Regions from separate parts of the Homo sapiens genome. Here all the other regions are linked to region 2. Evidence: fine-mapped expression QTL. A gene starts in region 2. Each other region holds a variant in brackets. All regions are shown on one strand. Distances are between the middles of the regions.

Region 1 (5,149 bases), 42 kb after region 2:
CCTTCTTCTCCAATAAGCAAATTCAAGTTTGGGGTGGGATCTCCCTACTGGGAATCTGATCAGGTCAAAGTTTGACTAGCTAGTACTGCAAATAAAGGAGGAGGAACTTCCAATGATTTCCACTCCCCCCAGCTGTGACTGGTCTGAACTCTAAGCAACAAGAAGTCACCTACAAGCACTGGCTGTTTCCTGAATAAAGTTTCCCTCAAATATGTAACATAGTATATTTTGTAGTGTGTGGATGCTGTTGTGATTTATAAAATATAAATACATCTAAAAGTATTGTTGAATGAGTAGTATTGTTTTCTTTTTTAATTTATTCAATATAGCATAGTGATTAAGAATTTGGGCTTCATAGACAAGCAAACCTGAATTCATATCTTTGCTCTACTGTTTTCTAGTACTGTGGTTGTGGGCAAGTGACCCAGCTTCTGTTAAGTCTCAATGTCTCCATCTGCATAGAAAAAGGAATGGCTCTGGGTAATAACAATTATTTAACCATGTTGTTAAGGGGCTATAGTAATTGAAATAACTCCTCCAAGGGATGGGGTTGGTCTTGAATTTGTGACATTAAAAAGAGAGCCTCACACTTGAAAGAATGAGAATTGCTAGTTCAGTGTAACTAACCCATTGATATGAAAGAAGGAGATGAGGCCCAGAACTGCAATGTATGCCCCATTTTGCCTGTGGCTAAAGCCTGATTTTAGTCAAGCTGGTCTTCAGTCTTGTGTAGAGGTGATGGGGAAAGTAGAAGTAGAAGTTAGATACAATGCTTCACTCGTGAACAGAACAGTCTAATTGGAGTTCACGAGATATATGGCCCGTGTTTGATTTTTGGTATTTGGTAGTGGAGGTCTGGGAGTTGGGAGCAAGCAGCTGTCATCCTTTTGGGAAGCCATGCTGTCCCCAGCAGGTGACACCCCAAGTCTCTTTGCCAGTGAGGCCCCACCACCCCACACTAGTATGAGTTAGGTTGCTCATGCAGAGCCATTTCTCAGGCATTATTCCTAACTCTTTTCCTTTTCATAAAGTGAGAGGGCTTATGCTCATCCCTCAACCAGACTATGAAAGAGACACTCACATTCCCAAGTGGTGGTTTTATTTTTTTATATTTTATGTTTGTATGGGAAATTGTGGATAAAGTGAAATAATTATAAATAAATGGTATGTTTCCTTTTTTAAAAAAGAGCAATCTAATTGGAATAGAATGTATGTGTGGTCCTAAGGCAGCTGGGAACAATGTGACCCGTACAGAGCTTGTTCCAGGTTGGCTGGTCCAGGCTATAGGAGTCTCATTTTTAAAATCTAAAATACCTCTCTTGCAAGATTTATGTACTAGATTAAGCAGGGCTAGATGCTCTAACAAATAACCCCCCAAATTTCAATGGGTTAACATAGTAGGTTCTCTCTTGCTCCTTGAACAGGCCAGTGTGTCCTGAACAGTGCTCCTGGCTTCCCTCCACTTGGTGAGGTAGAGACCCAGGCTCCTTCTATCTGGTAGCTCTGCTGTCCTCTATGATCTCGTGGTTTATGTCCCTTCAAGAGAAGTGGAAAGAGAGAGTAAGAATAAGGCATACTCCTTAAATGTATTGGTATAGAACTGATACACATTACTTCTAGTCACATCCCATTGACAAGGAACAGCCATGTGGCTCAGCCTAGTTGCAGGTGAGACTGGGAGATCTAATCCCTAATTGGGCAGCTGCCTTCTAGCAACAACCTTGCCCTGTGGGAAGGAGAGCATCAATTTTGGAGGACAGTAATGATCTCTTCATTATCTATGTGAGTATAAATTGTCAGATGCATAGGAGATATATAATAAATGTTTTCTTCTAATTATTAGTAACATCCATTGAGTCAAGAAATATTTGCTATGTGTGTACAAAACATTTTGCTAAGTATTGAGGCTAGAAAGATAAATAATAAGATACCTGCCCCCAAGGAACTTTAAGTCTGATGTGTAGATAGTATATATAGGTAGATGATTTTCATTTGAGCTTGACAACATTTGATCAGAAGAAAAAACTGGGAATAAATGTGCTCTACTCTGTGCAATCAGCTTTCTATCTGTCCATCTATCCTCCTTTCATTGAATGGGTCCCATGTGTAAGGCCTAGCGGTGAGCAGTAGGAGGGACAGCAGTAGAGTTAAATAGGGAAGAGATGGAAGATCACTGGGAATGTGGTTTCACTTTGCCCTAATGCAGCAGCTGTTGACACACTACATGCTGGTGTAACTAGCCATTGAACTGTTGTTGCCACCTCTCTTGATCAAGCTTTGAAGATAAGCATGAGAAACAATTAGTGTATTTCATATTTTTTTTATTTTTGTTGTCATGCTTATTTTTGTCCTCTTCAAGATAGCAAAGCCTAGGGGTAGTCAGCCAGCTGAGGCTATTTATAAAATGTCCATGTTGGCCTGGATATCACTACTGGTTAACATTTGTCAAACTCTAAACTCTGTAGTCTAGTAAAACAGAGGATCAGGAGCCAGTTTCAGAGGGAAAACCAACCTTTCCATTTACTAATTTCTTTTCTATCCTTAGCCTGCACAAAGAAGGTTGAGAAGTCAGAATTTTAGTTATGAACTGTGTGCAACTACAACAAATAGAGTCAGTAGTAAATAAATGGTTGTCACGAGTCTTTGGAGAAGGATTTATTATTGTGGCCATAGATTGGAGTGGTCCTTGAGGATGTTAATTATGTTGCTGCTTGTTGCAGTTTATGACATGGCTTCTATGTGGGGTAATTGGATCTAGG[G/A]GAGCTATCCTTTTCCATGGAAAAAGGCCAGTTTGGTCTCAGGTTTATAGCCCTAAGGAAAGGAGTTTCAGAAAGCAGTTGCCCAAATTTTTCAGCCTCCTTGATATTTCCAGTGCACAATTCTGGAAAAGGGCTCCTTAATTCAGAAATTGGCCTTTGTTGCAGGGATGCTAGGTCAGGAGGCAGGGAGGGGAAGAATGGAAAGGAGAGCAGAGATTACCTAGTTATTCAGGACTGTGGACCTAATTAATAGCTGGTGTTCAGTGCTAATCACTGCATTAAACATTTCAAAGGATTTTTAAAAAATTCTTGGCAACATCCCTGTGAGGTAGGTACTATTATAATCACTACTAGATGAGGAAACCAGGGCTTAGGTGGTTCAGTAATTCCCCCATATCATGCTGCTAATAGTTAGTTGGTGGGGTCAGGATTCCAATGAGGAAGCCTGACTCCAGAGCTTAGGTTTCTGACCGTGATGCTACACTGCCTTCCTAATTTATGTATCTAGTGGCTGCATGGTCTGAATTTTTTTTTTTTTTTTTACTCCTGATGCATCTTAATTAACAAAAGTGAAAGGGTGTATCTGTTGGTCTGGATGTCAAAATCCATCCAAGGGAATATAAAACTCACTACTTGGTTTTAGTTACTGGAAAAATGGCTTCTATTGAAGGGAATTAAGAGAACAATAGATTATTGGTTTTTCTATATCATTTTGATCTTGAAATCAATTTAGAAATATTGTCCATTTAGCCTGTTAACAATAGGTTAGAGTTATAACACAGGACAGCCTGGCAAGATGCAAGGAACAAAGGCTCTGGCATGACATAGTTCTGTATTTGAAGTCTGCTTCTGGCTTTGTGACACTGAGCAAGTTATTTAACCTCTCATCCTCAATTTCCTTACTGGGAAATGAAGGATTTAGGGTATTTCTGAGTATTTTATGAGACTAAACTGGTATGATATATGTTGAGCATTTGAAACAGTGCTCTGCACATAGTAGATTTTCAACAATAGTACCTGCTACTATTTTATAGTTTATTGATGAGGAAAGGGAAGCATATAATGAACAAATATATTCTCTGGGTTACTCTAGCCCCCACAAAAAACTTGCCCTAGCTGGGATGAAGTTGTTGTCCTTGTATTTTCAATCTGTTGCTACTTGTGCTGGATTATGCTAGCTTCTAGAACATACTAAATCTTGAGTTAATTTCTTAGTCCATTTGGACAGCTATATCAAAAGTATCATAGACCAGGTGGCTTATAAACAACAGAAATTTATTTCTCAACATTCTGGAGACTGGGAAGTCCATGATCAAAGCAGATTCAGTGCCTGGCAAAGGCCCCTTTCCTGGCTGCTGGACAGCTGTCTGTGTCCTCACATGGTAGAAGGGGTGAGGGAGCTCTCTGGTGTCTCTTTTGTAAGGACACTAATCCCATATAAGAGCAGAGTCCTCATGACCTAATACCTTCTAAAGGCTGAACCTCCAAATATCACATTGGGGATTAGGTTTCAACATATGGATTTTGGGGATACACAAACATTCAGTCTATTACAGTGGGCTTTAGAGTCCTGGAATCACTTCATCTTTGATCTGTATTTATAGCTTAATTTATCTTGATACAGGTTTCAAAATATAATTGAATAGCTACACTCACTTGATAATATTAAAGTAGGGCTATATCTTTAAGGCACAGTATCAGCTGGCTGTGAACAAAATGCTGGCTGATATATATGGTCTTCTTTTTCTCTCTGTATTCTTTTTTGAATTCTCATTCCAGTTCTGGTTTTAAATGTACCTTCAGTAAATAGATCCTCTTTATTTCCCTTCTAGTTCATTACTTACTTCCCATGCCTTCCTACTTATATAATCAAAATCTCATGATAGTTCTATGTTGTTTTTGTTGCTTTCCAATTACTTATCTGAGTCTTCCTCTTTTGAGAGAATATAACACCTTAATATTTATTGTAATAAATGGTTTGTTTTTATTCTTTTCCTTTATTTTATTTGCTATTTATTAGACTTTATTACTGTTTCTTCATTTTTCTTCTTACTTCTTTCTGTATTGATCAGCATCTTTTAAACCAGTTTTTTATAATTATCTACTGGATTATCAAACTCTTGTGGTGAAGACCATTTTTTATCTGTTTCATTTTACTCCCCATCTTTCCACTTCTGATATGGTTTGGTTGTGTCCCTACCCAAATCTCAACTTGTTGTATCTCCCACAATTCCCACATGTTGTGGGAGGGGCCCGGGGTGGGGGGGGCAGTAATTGAATCATGGGGGCTGGACTTTCCCATGCTATTCTCATGATAGTGAATAAGTCTCATGAGATCTGCTGGGTTTATCAGGGGTTTCCACTTTTGCTTCTTCCTCATTTTTCTCTTC
Region 2 (5,149 bases):
CCCAAGGGCAGCAGGCTGGACATGTTGAGACCATTCCTTTGGATTTCCAGTAGAGAATTTTCCTACACACACACACACACACACACACACACACACACACTCTCACATACATTCTCACACAACAGACACATGTCAGTGCTCACAGGGCCTTGCCCACAGACAGACACATACCCGTAGAAACACACATGCCATGCACTCAGACATCACCTCACTTCTCAACAGTTAATCTCACTTCACAGGCGTGAAGCCATACTCACCCATGGTTTCCAACCTCTGGGCTTTGGTCAGTGTCTGTTTCCTTCCTCAGCCCCTCCTTTCCTTCTTCCCTTCCATTGTTCGGGTTGGAAGGATTTGGAGAGGCCTATGTGTTGAGCCAAGGCAGGAAAACACAGAAGACGGTGTGCCCCAGCTAGTGTGGACATGGGAGGGGACAGCTGGTCCCTGCCCTCAGTTCAAACCACCAGTCACCTGTGGGGAAGGGCTTGGCGGCTAAACAGGAGCTCTTTCCCTGGGGCTTGGAGTCCACCTTTCCCACCTCTGCAGCTCAGATACCAATTCTATTTTTTTTTTTTTCTACATTAATGGGTTGGGTTTGAGAAAGTCCGTGGAGCTTATTTGGGAGTAAAGGATGGGGGGCGGGAGGATCCTTCTGATTGTTCGCATTTCGAGAAGGGTAGTTTTAGCCCATAACTCACCATGGAGGGCCCTTCCAGGAGACGTCGGGCAGGGCTTTCCTACAGCGGAACCGGGAGGCCGCCCCGTGAGGGCAGAAGCTCCCGCCAGGAGCCAGCACCACCAGCAGAGTGTGGAACCCCCAGAGGTCCTAGCCTCCTCCACGGGGCCTCCCAGGTGCTAAGTGGGGAGATGGGGAGAGGGTTCTGCCCTCTACTTGGAAATGCCTGGCCGTGTTCGTGGAGCCTGGGAGGTGCGGAGGAGCGGCGACGCGGCCATGGCGCTAGGCGCGCAAAGGCCCCGACACCTTACTAGGGCGGCGGCGGGCCCGTGGCACCGCTCCCGGCACCGAACAGGGCACAGCACTGGGGACACCTCTCTGCAGGGACCCAAGACGCGCGTGCGTGTGCGCCCCACGCCAGGCCCTCGCTCTCTTGCGGAGACTCCGCCGCATCGCTGGCTGCACCTGCCTCTCTCTTCTCGGCATTACTTGGGGGAAAGGGGACTCTTCACTGGACCTTTGCAGAGGTGGCTGCTACCCTTTGGCCACATAAATCAAGAAGGCAAGCCAGCCTCACCTTCCAGGAACCTCCAGCCTTCCGGCTGCGTCCCCGCCCCTCCCGCCTGGCCAGCTCCTCCCCCGCTTCTCCCAGCGCTCTTGCGCGCCTCGCTGCGCCTCTGCGCGCCGCTCGCTGTCCTCTGCCTCGCCTCCCCATTCTCCTTCCGCATCTTCTCCAGTGCTCCGCCGAGGGCGCTGCCTGCGGGGAAGAGGGAGACTGAGCCGTTAGTGAGGAAGTTCGGTCTGTGGACAAGTGTGGTGCCAGGCCGCCGCGAGGCTCGGCTGCAACCTGTTCCTCGCCCGCCGGTGCTCGCCGCCCGCCCGCTCGCACTCCCGCCCTCTCGGCGGCGCAGCCGCGGATCGCTGTTGCATGCTGATCCGGGGAGGCGGCGGTGGCGAGCGCTCCGGGCGGATGCTGGCACTCAGGCTTCGCTGCTCTCTGGATGCTGCTCAACTTCTAGCCCAAGCGCAGGAGCTTTGAAGTCATTTGTCCCTTTTCGCTTGGATCGACTTCTTATTTTGAGATTTTGGGCATTGCGGTTTACGCAGGAACCTCAATATCGCTCTCCCCACCTCCCTCCCTCTTTCTCCAACCTTTGGATGCGTCTCTGCTGGCAGATATAAAGACCCAAGTCTTCGCGGTGGAATTTCTTAGATGGACTTGCAGGGGCTGGCGTTATAAAGCATGTCATCGTAACCCCGTCCTCGTCTTTGTTTATTTTTTTTTAAAGTTCTTTTGTTTTCATTTTCCCCTCCTTCCCACCCCTTCCCCCAACCAATAAATCACCAAACTGTTACCTAGCGGGCCGGTGCCTGCCTCTCTCCCTGAACTAGGTGGTGCGTCTGCCAGAAGAGGAGCTATGTTTGAAGAGCAGCCTACTCCACCCCTCTCCTCTCTGGTCCCTGAACACCACCACACACTGGCATTTTGAAAAAAATATTTTCCTCCAGAAACTGGGCACCCCCAAGCCCTACCACCCGCTTTTTTTTTCTTTTTTCTTTTTTTTTTTTTTCCTTCTTGAGGAATGGAGCTTCGCAGAGGTTGCATTTAGATTCAACAGTTCACAGCGGCGGGCTGCTGCTGCTGCCTCTCCGAAGAGCTCGCGGAGCTCCCCAGAGGCGGTGGTCCCCGTGCTTGTCTGGATGCGGCTCTGAGTCTCCGTGTGTCTTTCTGCTTGTTGCTGTGTGCGGGTGTTCGGCCGCGATCACCTTTGTGTGTCTTCTGTCTGTTTAAACCTCAGGATGGCTCGCTTCGGGGAGGCGGTGGTCGCCAGGCCAGGGTCCGGCGATGGAGACTCGGACCAGAGCAGGAACCGGCAAGGAACCCCCGTGCCGGCCTCGGGGCAGGCGGCCGCCTACAAGCAGACGAAAGCACAGAGGGCGCGGACTATGGCTTTGTACAACCCCATTCCCGTCCGGCAGAACTGTTTCACCGTCAACAGATCCCTGTTCATCTTCGGAGAAGATAACATTGTCAGGAAATATGCCAAGAAGCTCATCGATTGGCCATATCCTTTCTTGCCCACCATAACTCCCTCTCCCCCTTTGCATTTCTTCGGGTGAAGGGGGGTACCTAGCATGGAATGTATCCCCCACCCCTTCCTGGTGCCAATTTGCCCCTTTGCTGAAGCACACTCTTCGGTGCATCTAAGGGGCAAGCTTGGTGCCGTGGAGACCCGTTTGGGCACTAGTGTTTTTCAAGGTAAGACTTTTGGTTTTTTATTTTTCCTATGTGGAAATCTTTAGTGTCCCTGGGTGCATCCCTTTCTGGGCTGGGCTTTGTCTGATTCCCAGCCCCCTCCCCACCCCTACTCCCTTCACATGCCGCCCTCTACATAGATTGGGTTGCCCCAATGCTTCCTTTCATAATTAATTCTCATTTTCCTTTCTTTAAGCCAGCCACTCTGCCCGTATCCCCACCAACCAGGAGACACCGCACTGTCTTCCTGTAGGGAAGTCAAGGCTCCATGAGGGGATTTATCAGTTCAGAAGTTCCCAGGGCCAAAACCCTGTGTACAGATAGACAAATGAATAAATAAAACAGGCTTTTGGGTGGGGACTCAGCTAACTCTAGGGACTTAAGTTTAAGTTCCACTGAAAGTGGCATGAGTGAGTGTCTGTCAGGGGAGGTGATCTCTGTTGCCACAGCCCAAGGAGCTCAAACTTGGAGTTCTCCTCTCAGCCAAGAAAGAGCAGCTCATCAGGCCCATCCTGTCCTTGGTCCTTGGTTGGGTACTCTTGCTTCTTAGTGCTTGACCCAGCTGATTGCTCTCCCAGTATCCAGGATCCAGGTGGATCGGCTGGGCCTGAATTCATCCGCTGAGGCCAGAGGTGTGCATGCAGTCTCTCTCTCCCTAGCTCCAAAGGAACTGCTCTCCCCAAAGCACTGGTGGGGGCCATCTCTGATGGTGGTGGTGTCAGGGTGAACAGGCATGGAAGGAGCTTCTTTGCAGGTTTAATCAAGTGCACCAAATGCAGACTGCTGATTAGGCAGCTCACTGCCTTGTTCTTCACTAAGGATTGGACGCCTGGCAAGGCCATTGGGAATTGGGGGTGGTGAGGCAGTGAAGGGGATTAGTAGGAGGCAAGCTAGTGGTCTGGCGTTAAATATGGGGATGGGGTTGGAGACATGGGACTTTGGGAGGGAGATTTGGGAGGGATGCATCTGCAATGGAGGCCCCTTCTTTTCTCCCCTATTCTCCCTCTTTCCCACCCCCACCGTCCAGGTGTGCAGCAGTGAGGCAGCTGGAGCTGCCTTGGGTCTCTAGTATTAGCCAGACACGCGGCTCATTTCCCCCAGGGCCTGGGCATCTCCCTACTCCCCCAACCCCAGTCTCTGGCCTTCCCCTTCTTCTCTAGTTCCCTGCCTCAGCAGCTCGGTGATTGGCTGGCGCGTGGTGCTTCTAGGCAGCACCCCCTCATTAGAAACGAAGGAGCATCTCTAAGCAGATATTCTTCCTGCTGCTGTTCGCATCCTCCCACAGCAACCCCGGCTGGGCTTCTCCCTCTCTCCTCTCTGCATCCCGCTCCCCTGCTCCACTCTCACAGAGTGATCCCAGGCCATCCATTGCCTGAGTTGAACGTATCTAGCTAGGGTGGAGGTTTCGGGCGGGGGAGGGGTCGGGTCCCTGCAGTCACGCCTGCCGGTGCGCTGCACAAAGCGGACAGATCTCATTGTGTTGTGTGCTGCGGCTGCAAATATTCCTCTAGGCAGTCTACGGATTTCCCAGCTGGGCCCTCCTTTCTCACTCGGCTTCTACGGTTCTCTAAATCTTCCCATCCACCAGGTGCTGCCTTGCTGTGCCCCTCTCTTAGGGGCGTGTTTATTCAGACAGGCGCCCTCCCGTTTCTTTGCGGTAGACAAAGCCGCCCAACCGCCCCGCGGGTGGCAAAGTGTGCCAGCAGCCATCGTTGGCACCTCGGACAGCGCCGCTGAAACTCCCGGCGGCCCGGGGCTCCCCAGTTACCCGGGTTCAGCACCTCGGGTACTTCTGGCCGGGCCCAGCCTTGGAGCTGAGAAACCAGGCACGTTTCCTACACCACGTGGTCACCTTTTTTCACGTTTTCTCTTCCGCTGCAAAGACACCGCCTTTCCACCAGGCGTTGCGAGCGCGCAAGGTGCGGCTGTGAGTCTTACTCCTCCCTTTCCTTGTCTTTGGCCAAAAATGGACCAAAGAGAGTCAAACGGGAGACTCTCGAGGGAGTTGATTTCAGCATCATGCTCAGTGCCTTGGCCCCGAGCCCTGTCCCAATGGTCTCTTTTGTCTGCATAGTTGGAAATTTCACAGTGGTTCTACAGCATGTAGGCTGTGGTAACAGTGTTCAGGGAACATCTGCTAAGGTGTTTAGTGGAGCCCTGTTGGAAAATATAAAATACACCATGTACAATGTAATTGACTAATATATTCCCTCTGGTGG
Region 3 (5,149 bases), 22 kb after region 2:
GCTATGTCTGGGTTTTAGGCACAAGGTCTTATGTCTTCGGCATTACTCGTCCCTCCAGGACAGATGTATCTTTCTCAGTCGGCTCAGACGAGGGTCATATGATCTCACCAGCATGATCTCACTGCATTTCCATCAGGGTCTGTGGGAACTGGAGCCAGACTTCTGTGATGGTTCAACCCCTCCTGTTCTTAGCCCTGGCCTGGGGTGTGATTAATATCCCTTCTAATCACTGGGAGAGATTGCATCAGAGCCATCAGCTTCATAAATCCTCCTCTGGGGACTGGTGTTTGGATGCGCTTTCCATATTCTCAGGAGGTTCTGGGCCAAATGTCTTTGCTCTTTTCCTGGAGGCCCATTACCATAATTTTCTTTTAAATCCTTTATTGGAGTTGGTCTCCTCTGTGTCAGTCCATGGCTACAGCCAGCCAGCCCACTCCTGAGGGCTGGAGGCTGTAACCACCAACAGATGCTTTCCCCAAAGTATTGAGCCACAGTAGATGCTGAAAGATTGAGTTAGTAGGATACTGAAAGTAACTGTATTTGTGCAACACTTTACAGTTTTCAGAGGGAGTTCAGATTCCGGTATCATTTTAGGCTTCAGTCCTTTTGTATTTCTTGTTTGGTTCTGTGGGAATGGATGGTCATAACCCTTCATTGACTCTTGAGTACTGTGTTGGGACAGCTTTTGCAGTCGGAGGCCTGGCTCTGGTTTCCTTTACCAAGCTACATTTTTTCCATTGCATTCCAGGTCTTGAAGAAGATTCTGAAGTTACACGGAAGGCTTGGATAGCTGTATTTCATTCCTGTTCATATGTAAAATGTCTATTTGGTGTCATGCTAATAGGGAATCACAGACTAGTTAAGGCTCTTTCTCTGTTACTGTCTTTGAGTCAAAGTCCACTTATTAGGATGATATTTATGTGCACATGAAGAAGAGGTGGAAAGACATGCATGAAGGTGTCCATGCCATCCTCTGAGGCTGTTACATCTCTTGGATTTAGACATCCAAAAACATGAGACTGAAGGGAGAAAAGGAGACAGGTCTTCCTGTAGGGTCTGGGGTGAGGGGTGGAAATGGGTAAAGGAGGCTGAGGAATGCCTCCCCTCAGACTGTGGACTCTTCTATACCCCCCCAGGAGTTTCCAGGAAGTGCCTGAGTGCCCACCGACTGCTCCCCACAAAAGCATATTCTGCATTAGGCTGAAGTTGGGAGAGTGCACAGCATTCTATCTGCCTGCCTGTCAGAGCATGGCCTTCTTAGTGTTCGGATGTCATAGGCTCTGGGAGGAGACAGCTAAGTACAGAGGTCTTCAGGATGAGCCCCCTGGTGGTGATAGAGATGCATGTTTGCCTGGGGACACCCAATATTTACTGCCTGAGGCCTAAGTCCTTCCCAAGCATGTACCTACAGATCTGTACCTGAGAGGTGATGATGAGGAGGCTTTTCAGGCTCAGGCAGATGAAGAGCTCAGCTCCAGGCCAGGCCCCCAGGGCTCCGGTGACAGCAGAACCAGCATCACCACCCTTGCCCCAGCTTTCTGTGCTTCAAGAAGGAAATGAACAAATGGCAGGTGTGCAGGCCACGTCGTGCTGCTCAAATTAGCCATGTTGCTAAGGAAACAAGTCAACCATTCAAAGGAAGGAGCATTGGGTAAAGGAGATAAATCAATAAGTGAACCTATTTTTATCATTTCCCTAATGATTGTCTTGAAACTGCTAGACTAGAAAGAGAGTTGGAGCAACACAGGTCCTCATTAATGGGCTCAGAGGGAACGAGGAGTGAAGGGGTGTTTGAGGAGATTGCCAGTAAAGTTTATGAAATGAGGCCTCTAGTGAGCAGTGAGCTGGTACAGGAGGGAAGGCAGGAAGGAAGATGTCTTTTGCAAGTTTCAAAGTGGTTTCATGGTCATTTCCTCATTTTGGCCAGGTCCCTTCATTCTCTTGCATTTAATCCTCTCCGAAGTCTTTTTCTGATTTCTCTGGCCATCGCATTCCTCCTCACTCTCAGGTTGGGATGGGTTTTTGTGTTGATTTGTTCTTTTCAGGATACATATAGCTTTAATTGATTTTGTAGTGATAAATGAACACATGCTCATTTGAACACTCAGAAAATGGTTAGAGGAGTAAAGAAGAAAGTGAAAATAACCCTGCTACCGAGAGAAGACTCATCATCCTTCCAG[C/T]AAGACAGAATTTTTTCTTGTTCTCTCCCTTCTCTTTTTTTTTGTTTTTGTTTTTTTTGAGACGGAGTCTTGCTGTGTTGCCCAGGCTGGAATGCAGTCGCACGATCTCAGCTCACTGCAAGCTCTGCCTCCCAGGTTCACGCCATTCTCCTGCCTCAGCCTCCTGAGTAGCTGGGACTACAGGTGCGTGCCACCATGCCTGGCTAACATTTTGTATTTTTTTTAGTAGAGATGGGGTTTCACCGTGTTAGCCAGGATGATCTTGATCTCCTGACCTCGTGATCTGCCCACCTCGGCTTCTGAAAGTGCTGGGATTACAGGCGTGAGCCACCGCACCTGGCCTTCTCTTTTTTTTTTTAAACATGAAAGGGATCTTCCATGTATGCTGGTTTATTTTCTTTTTTAAATAGGTCATGTGTGTCTACAGTGGACAGTATAAAAAGTTCAAATGGGTATACAGTGTGGAGAGTGTGGGTACCTTTTGTAAGGATACCTCTGGCTCTAGTTTCCCTGTATGATTCATTTATCAATTGAATATTAATTTATTAATAAAATAACAGTTACCGGGGCCCCACTGTGTGCCAAGTACAGTGGTGAGTGAGGCAGGCAAGGTCCTGCCCTGGGGCTCCCAGTCCTTACTGCCCCATCATCTCCATTTGTTCAAGATTTCAAAACACAAGCAATCTGGATACCAGGGATAGATATTCTTCCCTAAAATATGCACAGTGTCAGGCACAGAGTGTAATGAGTGTCACTGAATTCTAGAACAGAGAGTCAGAGTCCTGGACAGACTTCCATCTTGTCCCTGATTGTGGTTGCCATGAAGGGTGATGGTCTTTGAGGCCGTGGCGACTCGGAGCTCCCTTTGACCTTTCTAAGTCATGTCTTTGTCCAGTCTGCCAGGTTGAGGGGCACTAGCTTGACTGGTGGGTGGGTGTTATTTGCCGTCTAGGCTCTTCACTTTGGGGATGTAGCAGAGCCATTGCTTTGGGGTGTGAAGTTTTGCTGTCGGGAAGAAATGGGAGTGGTGCCTCGGAGGCAGCCTGCAAGGGTGGGAGTGAGCAGGAGCCATGGCTCAGGCCAGAGTGGGTGAGCAAAGCCCTGTCTTTGTAATGGCTCCTTAGTGAATGCCTCATGTTCATTCTTACCTGCATTGAACATTGACTAAGCTCCTACTATATACCATGGGCTCTGCTAAGCACTGCCAGTAGAGACATGAGCAAAACTCCTGCTTTCAAGATATAGTTTCTTGATTTAAATAGGAGAAGAAATAATACAGTCACACAATTCAAAGAGCTGTGGGGCACGGGGAGAAACTTTCACTGACAAGGTGGCATTTCAGCTTGGTCTTGATGTATGACTGGAAAGGAGAAGAAACGCCATTGCATGTGGTGGCAGAAGCACCTAGATGTAAATGCCTCTTTTTTGTGCTTTCTTCAGAAAGGGAAGTGGAAAAGAGTTTAAAGAACAGGGCTGTAAGGGAGAGTGGCTGGGGCCTAGGCAGACTTGGATGGTCTCTTCTGCTCACCTCCCCTGAGATTTCCCTGCCACTATCCATTCTTTCACCTAGCCCACAGTTACACAGAATCTCCACATTCTCACTGCAGGTTCTTCATTACCGCAGCCATGAATTCATCCTGAGGTCTAGATGCCCTATAAGGCTGAAAGGGACATCCCTCTCAAGGGCATATATATCTGAACAATTTTAAAAATGTAAAGCAAAAAAAAAAATATTTTTAAGCCAGAAGATTGCTGCTGTGAATGGGCCTCACATCAGATAGTGGGAAGAGGATTTGGCTGGAGAGGAAGTGAGAATAGGGTCTTCTTAGAACCTGTGAATTACCAAACTCCCACCTTTAGATTCTAGACTTTAGGGCCTTGGGTAGCACCAGCCATCAAGACCTCATGAATTCTCAGCCACCCAGATACCTGGCCAGTCACTGGGAGTTTGACTCATCAGCACCTGGGCCAAGAGCCATTCCGCTGCCTGGAGCATCTTCCGGTGGTGTTGGCTACACCTTCCTGAGCTAGCCTGTGTCCCCACAAACCTCACATATCTGCCCTTGGACATTCTGGACTAGTTGAGCTTAAAGGTCCTTATAGGGAGCAATATACTTGGGTTAACTGGCTAGGAAAATGCAGGTATGGGTGTGGAAGCAGGGAGCTGGGGCAGTGGAGGAACTGCCATGGTCCAAGGGGATATTGTGAGTGGAGAGTCAGGGGCAGTGGAGGAGCTGCCATGGTCCAAGTGGGTATTGTGAGTGGGGAGGCCTCGGAGGCACATGGCTGCCAGGACCTGTCTTGCCTGCAGGCTCAGCACTGAGAACCCATCTACTTTGAAGCCTGTGCTTATCACTTTCAGGTTTTCAGGGGAAGAAGATTCAACCCCCCAAAACAATCATAGACCCCACATAGACCCATTAGAATGCGAGAGGTCTGCAGCTTGAACGAGAAAGTACTTGTGCCCAGTCCTACCTTCCAGGGCAGGCACTGGGCTTCTTGGATCTGCTGAGCAGGTGTCTGAAATTGCATGAGACGTTTCCAGCTGTGAGGAGTGACCAGGTGAGCCCCACACTGTTGTGAACACTTTTGTTAGGAACCAGGACAGGGGATGACATGGAAGAGGCCCTGGTTTCACTCCAGTCAGATCCATCATCCCTCCTGCCCCAGCTCTTGGGGACTGGCAGACAGACCCCCACTTTGTGTCAGGCTGCCCAGGTATGTTCCTGGGAACACCGTTCAAAAGAGATGCTCTGAAAAAAAGAGTTACAAGGTGAAGCAAGTTTGGGAAATGTTGTGTGCTGTCCCAAACGCCTTGTGTGTGTGTGTGTGTGTGTGTGTGTGATGGGGTGTGTGCCCACTGTATGCAAAAGTATTAAAGGCCCCAAGAAGTCCTGCTGGGGAGAAACCTGCTTAACTTTGCCCAACCCAGGCTTTCTCTCATTGGTTGATTGCAAGTTCCTATAGCA
Region 4 (5,149 bases), 47 kb before region 2:
ATAATAGTGCTCACCTCATAGGTCTGTTGTGCAAATTAAATGAGAGAGACATATAAAGTGCTTATCATAGTTCCTGGCAGATAGTAAATGATCCATAAATGTTAGTTTTACCATTTCCCTATTTTTGGACACTTAAGTGGCTTAATTTTTTTTACTATTATAAATTAATCAGTTTATCAGTAACAAATATTTATTGAGTACTTACTACTGGCCAATTTTTTTTTTTTTTAAATACTAGAAATTACAGGGGTAACCAAGACCAGACAAGTGTCTGATCTCATGGAATTTAAATTTTAATGGGAGACATGATCAATAAGCAGGGTAAGTTTGGATATGGAAAAGGCTATCAATCACATACAACAAGATGATGCCCTGAGCTTCAGGTAGGGTGGGCAGCGAGGAGCTTTCTGAGTTAGGTGATGTGTGAGCAGACATCTGAATGACAAGGGGGAGATCTGGGGAAGAGCAAGTTAAAGACCTTGAAGTGGAAGTGAACTTGAGGAGTTCAATCAAAATTCAGAAGCAGGGAGCGCAGGGGGTTTGGTGTGGTGGGAGGAGCTACGGGAGGTGGGCAGGAGCCACCTGGTCAGGGAACACTTCGGAGCTCAGGGTGAGGACTGTGGACTTCATTGCAAGGTGTGAGACATGCACTGGAGGCTTCCGTGCAGCGGAGGGATGCCTACTCAGTGGTGTGCTGGAGCGGGCTCATGGGAGCTTCTGAGAGCCTCTTGGCACGTCTCTTCCCAGCTCCTTATTCAGTGAAATCATGTTGATAAGTGGCTTGATCTGGGTTGCAGACAGTTACAGATTCTCCTCGATTTATCAGGACACAATCTGATCAACCCATTGTAAGTGAAAAATATCATCAGTCAAAACTGCATTTAACACCATCTAAACCCTTCCTAAAGTCAAAAGATCATAAGTCAAACCATCATAAGCCCAGGACTGTCTATATTTATAACACAGGAGTTTATAGCAGATGCTACTCTTCCCCTAGAGAGCTAGTTGTTAAATGTTTACCAGCACACCACTGGAACAAACTAATCTAGGTTTTAAAAAATTCTCTTTGCCTATGCTCTGTGAAGAATGAATTACAGGGAGGCAATATGCAGTTTTGACTGTAGTTTTGAGAATTTCCTTAGGATAAATTACTGGAAGTGAAATTACTACAGAAAATTATCTAATTGCTCCCCCTACTGAAAATGTTCATCATTTATACCTCCACTAGCAGCAAGGTACCATTTCCTTGTACTCTTACTCACACTTAGCTTTAGCCACCCCCATAGAATGTTCCTTCTATCTAGAACTTTGCATTCTGTTCTCTATGTGTAGCTGATTATTTATTTATTTATTTATTAATCCTTCAGGTCTGGTCTCACATCTCTCTTCTCAGAGGACTTTCCTGACCACTCTATTTCATTGTAATTACTTATTTGCCAGAACCATGGCCATTTATTTATGTCTAGGACAGGGTCTGCCACATAGTAGGCTCCCAATATATATTATTGAATGAATGAATGCATCCGCCTACCTTTCTGAATTCTCAAATTGATACTAATACAGTCAAAGGAGTTCCTTTCCTTGGAATGTCTAGGATTGGCTTTTTTCAGCTTAATGATATTTCTGGAGTTGAGGTATATTAAGTCCAAAGAGTTCAATAATTGATAACAAAATACTGTGCAATAACCTAACATTATAACAAGATATTTTGCAATAAAATGCAGCTTTAAAACATCTGTTATCCAAGTGAAGTGATGACTCACAGAGAAAATATTTCCAAACCATACATCTGATAAGGAGTTAATATTAAAAAGATATGAGGAACTCAAACGACTTAAGAGCAAGAAAACAAATAACCCTATTAAAAAATGGGCAGGGGACCTGAACAGACATTTCTCAAAAGAAGACACACAGATGGCCAGCAGATCCATGAAAAGATGCTCAACATCACTAATCATCAGGGAAATGCAAATTTAACCACAGTGAGATATCAGTTCACACCTGTTAGAATGGCTATAATAAAAGAGACAAACAATGAATGTTGGTGAAAATGTAGAGAGAAGGAAATTCTTATGTATTGTTGGTAGAATGTAAATTGATACAGCCATTATGGAAAATAGTATGGCGGTTCTTTAAAAGCTAAAAACAGGACTACCATATGATCCAGTAGTCCCACTTCTGGGTATATATCCAAAGGAGATGAATCAATATTTTGAAGAGATATCCACACTCCCATGTTCATTGTCTCATTATTCACAATAGCTAAGATATGCAAGCAAGCTAAGTGTCTATCAATGGGTTAATGGATTAAGAAAATATGGTGTGTATACACAATGAAATACTTTCAGCCTTAGAAAGAAGAAAATTGTCATTTGTGACAACATGGGTGAACCTGGAGCATATTATGCTAAGTGAAATAAACAGGCACCGAAATGCCAATATCATATGAGCTCACTTATATGTGGAACCCAAGAAAGTTGAACTCAGACATACAGAGTACAATGGTGGTTACAGAGGCTGGGGACGAGGGGGGTGGATGAGAAAGGGGTGAGGTTGTTCAAAGGGTACAACATTTTAGT[TAGAC/T]AGGAGGAATGTGTTTTAGAGATCTGTTGCACAGCATGTTACTATAGTTAATAATAGCAGATTGCGTATTTCAAAATTGCGAAAACAGTAGATTTTAAATGTTCTCACCACAAATAGGTATATGAGGTGATGGATATGTTAATTAGCTTGATTTTATCATGTAAAATCTACAATTTAAATATATATGAAAACATCACATTAAACCCCATAAATATATACAATTATTATGTCAATTAAAATGAATTAAAATAATAGAAAACCCCCAAAAAAGCATGTTATCCATTAAAACACGAAAAACCAAGAGCCGTCAATAACTGCATGTTTCTAGTGAGACTACAGCAATTTCTCTGTGCACTTGCCAGAGGCTTCTCTGACATGTGGTCACCCTGGAGCCCATGCAACACCCTCTTATTGCCACAGACTTCTGTGCTCACTGCATGGCCAATATGTGTAGACTAACTTCTGACAGTTTTATATTCTCTTTTAAAATTTTCCACATTTGCTCTTGATCTCATTCTTTCTTTTTTCTGTGCTATAAATTTCTCCAGCTCTACTAGATCATCCCACCAGTGTAAAAACATGCAATAGAATGTCACATATAAGAACAAAACACAAGAATCCTTGCTACCTCATACGCCTCTTTATCCTCGGTCCCATTTCTCTGCTCTCCTGTATAGCAAAACTTCTCAGAAAAGTGGCGAATGTTGTCCCCACTTTCTCATCTCCTGCCCCTCCTAACCACTCTAACAGGTGGTCTGCTCACAAAAACTGCTCTTGTTCAGGTCATTAGTGATGCCCACATTCCTGAGTCCCATGGTTCTTTCTCTGTCTTTATTTGATTTGACTTCTCAGAGTACTTAGACTCTCATTCTTGAAGCATTTGCTTCTCTGGCTTTTGTGGTAGCATGCTGTTCTAGTTTTCCTATTTCACTGGCTGTCCCATTCCAGTCTCTGTTGCTGGTTCTTGCTCCTCTGCTATACCCCTGATGTAGGTGTGCCCCAGGGCTGGCTTCTGGGCCCTCTTCTCTTCTCTGTCTATGCTCACTCCCAGGATCTCACCCATTTTTGTAGGTTTACATAAATCCACATGTAAATGACTCCCACATTTATAGATTCAGCCTTCATCTCTCCTCTGAGCTCCTGAGGCTGAAATCCAGCTGTTCCCTTGACATCTTAACTCAGGTGTCTAATGAGAGTCTTCAACTGAACAGGTCCAAGGAACTTTTGACTTATGCCATCCTCCAGTCTATTCCTCCTCATGTCTTCCTTTCCCCACAAATGACACTACCATCTATGGTGTGGCTCCAATTCCAGATTATACTAAACAGTTAAGGGAGGTGTGTGGTGAGAATGGTGGCCATACTCCCTTGGGGTGCTGTCACCAGGACCAGTCTTGAGCCCAGTTCAGCCCTCCTTGTTTAGTAGCATATGTCTCAGAACATGATATGCACGGCCACTTCCACCCACTGCTTTCACTTCCGGCCCCTTTTCTTAGGAGTTTTGGTCTCATAATGGCTCTAGAAGCAGAGGAACTGAAGGCTAGAGTGGGCAAAAGTATTCTCTCTACTTCCAAAATTATATTCATGCAAGAGAAGTTGACTTCCTGGTTTTCTGGGTAGTACAATCCCTAGGTCCATATGATGTGGAGCTGGAATTGTGGATGGGGAATGGTGCATTTATGGAAATTCTTTCAGGGCAGTAGGTTTGTTCCAATTCCATTCTCATTTTTAAAAATACCATTTGCTTTTGCCTTTTTATTTTTTTAAATCATCAGGTGGGGAGTGGGAAAGTCTAAATCAAAGACTGTCATTCAGATGGTATTTTAGGCTAGAAATCCCCAATATAGAAATACAAATATAAACAATTAGGAGAAATTTATTTATACCCATGAGAATGGCAAAATTCAGAAAGGTGGATCATACCACTCTTGTCACTGATGAGGGAGATGGAAATTTGCACGCGTACACTGGTGGGAGCATAACTGGTACGCTTATTTTGGAAGAATCTAGTGAAGTGAAATGTGTGCCTGACCTATAATCCAGCAATCCCACTCTTGGGTATATATGTCCTAGATAAATTCTGAAAAGATGTGTACAAAGATTTCATTGTAGTATTTTACTTGTGATAGCAGGGACTTAGAGGCAACCTAGGTACCCATTCCAAGGGAATAGATAAAGTGTGGTGGAGCATCTATGGGAGGGATATGCAGTGGAGAAGCGACAGCCTAAACACATATAGCAGCATGGTTAGATTTTCACAACAGTGTTGAGTAAAAAACAATAGGAACTGGATGAGATTTATAACATATTATGACTTATATGTTAAGTTAAAAACATACCTACCAAACTTTTCCTATTTGATTTGGATATTTGAATATTTAAGTTTGTATGTTAAATATGTCAGAGATGGTACCCATGCTAGGCAGGGGGTTGAAGGGGGAAAAAGCCCTGTAGCATCTGGAGTCAATTCAGACATAGAGAATAATAATATGTCTAAAATTAAAGACAGAGATTTCAAATTTGAGATATTTTCCCTGTAAATTTTAGAAGGTTAGAGTTTCCCAAAT

Which allele goes with the higher level. Positions count from the first base shown, and alleles are read on the strand shown. Sizes are in standard deviations (SD) of each study's normalised expression. Not every link is listed here.
For the expression in testis of the gene that starts at base 2,246 in region 2, allele TAGAC in region 4 goes with a lower level than allele T (small effect, 0.33 SD a copy in GTEx).

Evidence for each region. PIP is the estimated chance that this variant, and not a neighbour inherited with it, causes the effect.
Region 1: its variant is the best candidate, but not a certain one, in a credible set for the expression of CACNA1E in whole blood (INTERVAL, PIP 0.82).
Region 3: its variant is the best candidate, but not a certain one, in a credible set for the expression of CACNA1E in whole blood (TOPMed, PIP 0.88).
Region 4: its variant is the best candidate, but not a certain one, in a credible set for the expression of CACNA1E in testis (GTEx, PIP 0.73).

The regions. Positions count from the first base shown.
Region 1 is chr1:181,523,129-181,528,277 of GRCh38, forward strand. The region is part of intron 3 of CACNA1E (calcium voltage-gated channel subunit alpha1 E); the gene reads left to right. Among named protein-coding and RNA genes, the nearest start is that of CACNA1E, 42 kb to the left of the region's middle. The variant G/A (reference allele first, on the strand shown) is at 2,760.
Region 2 is chr1:181,481,272-181,486,420 of GRCh38, forward strand. It overlaps CACNA1E (calcium voltage-gated channel subunit alpha1 E), which reads left to right and starts at 2,246. Exons shown (of 48, transcript NM_001205293.3): 1 at 2,246-2,739. The coding sequence starts at 2,474. RefSeq lists enhancers at 437-969, 1,021-1,150, 1,953-2,477, 2,478-3,001, 3,964-4,093 and silencers at 1,301-1,430, 1,471-1,600.
Region 3 is chr1:181,503,152-181,508,300 of GRCh38, forward strand. The region is part of intron 1 of CACNA1E (calcium voltage-gated channel subunit alpha1 E); the gene reads left to right. Among named protein-coding and RNA genes, the nearest start is that of CACNA1E, 22 kb to the left of the region's middle. RefSeq lists enhancers at 1,574-1,693, 2,114-2,343. The variant C/T (reference allele first, on the strand shown) is at 2,181.
Region 4 is chr1:181,434,180-181,439,328 of GRCh38, forward strand. It overlaps a transcript of CACNA1E not described here. Among named protein-coding and RNA genes, the nearest start is that of CACNA1E, 47 kb to the right of the region's middle. The variant TAGAC/T (reference allele first, on the strand shown) is at 2,580.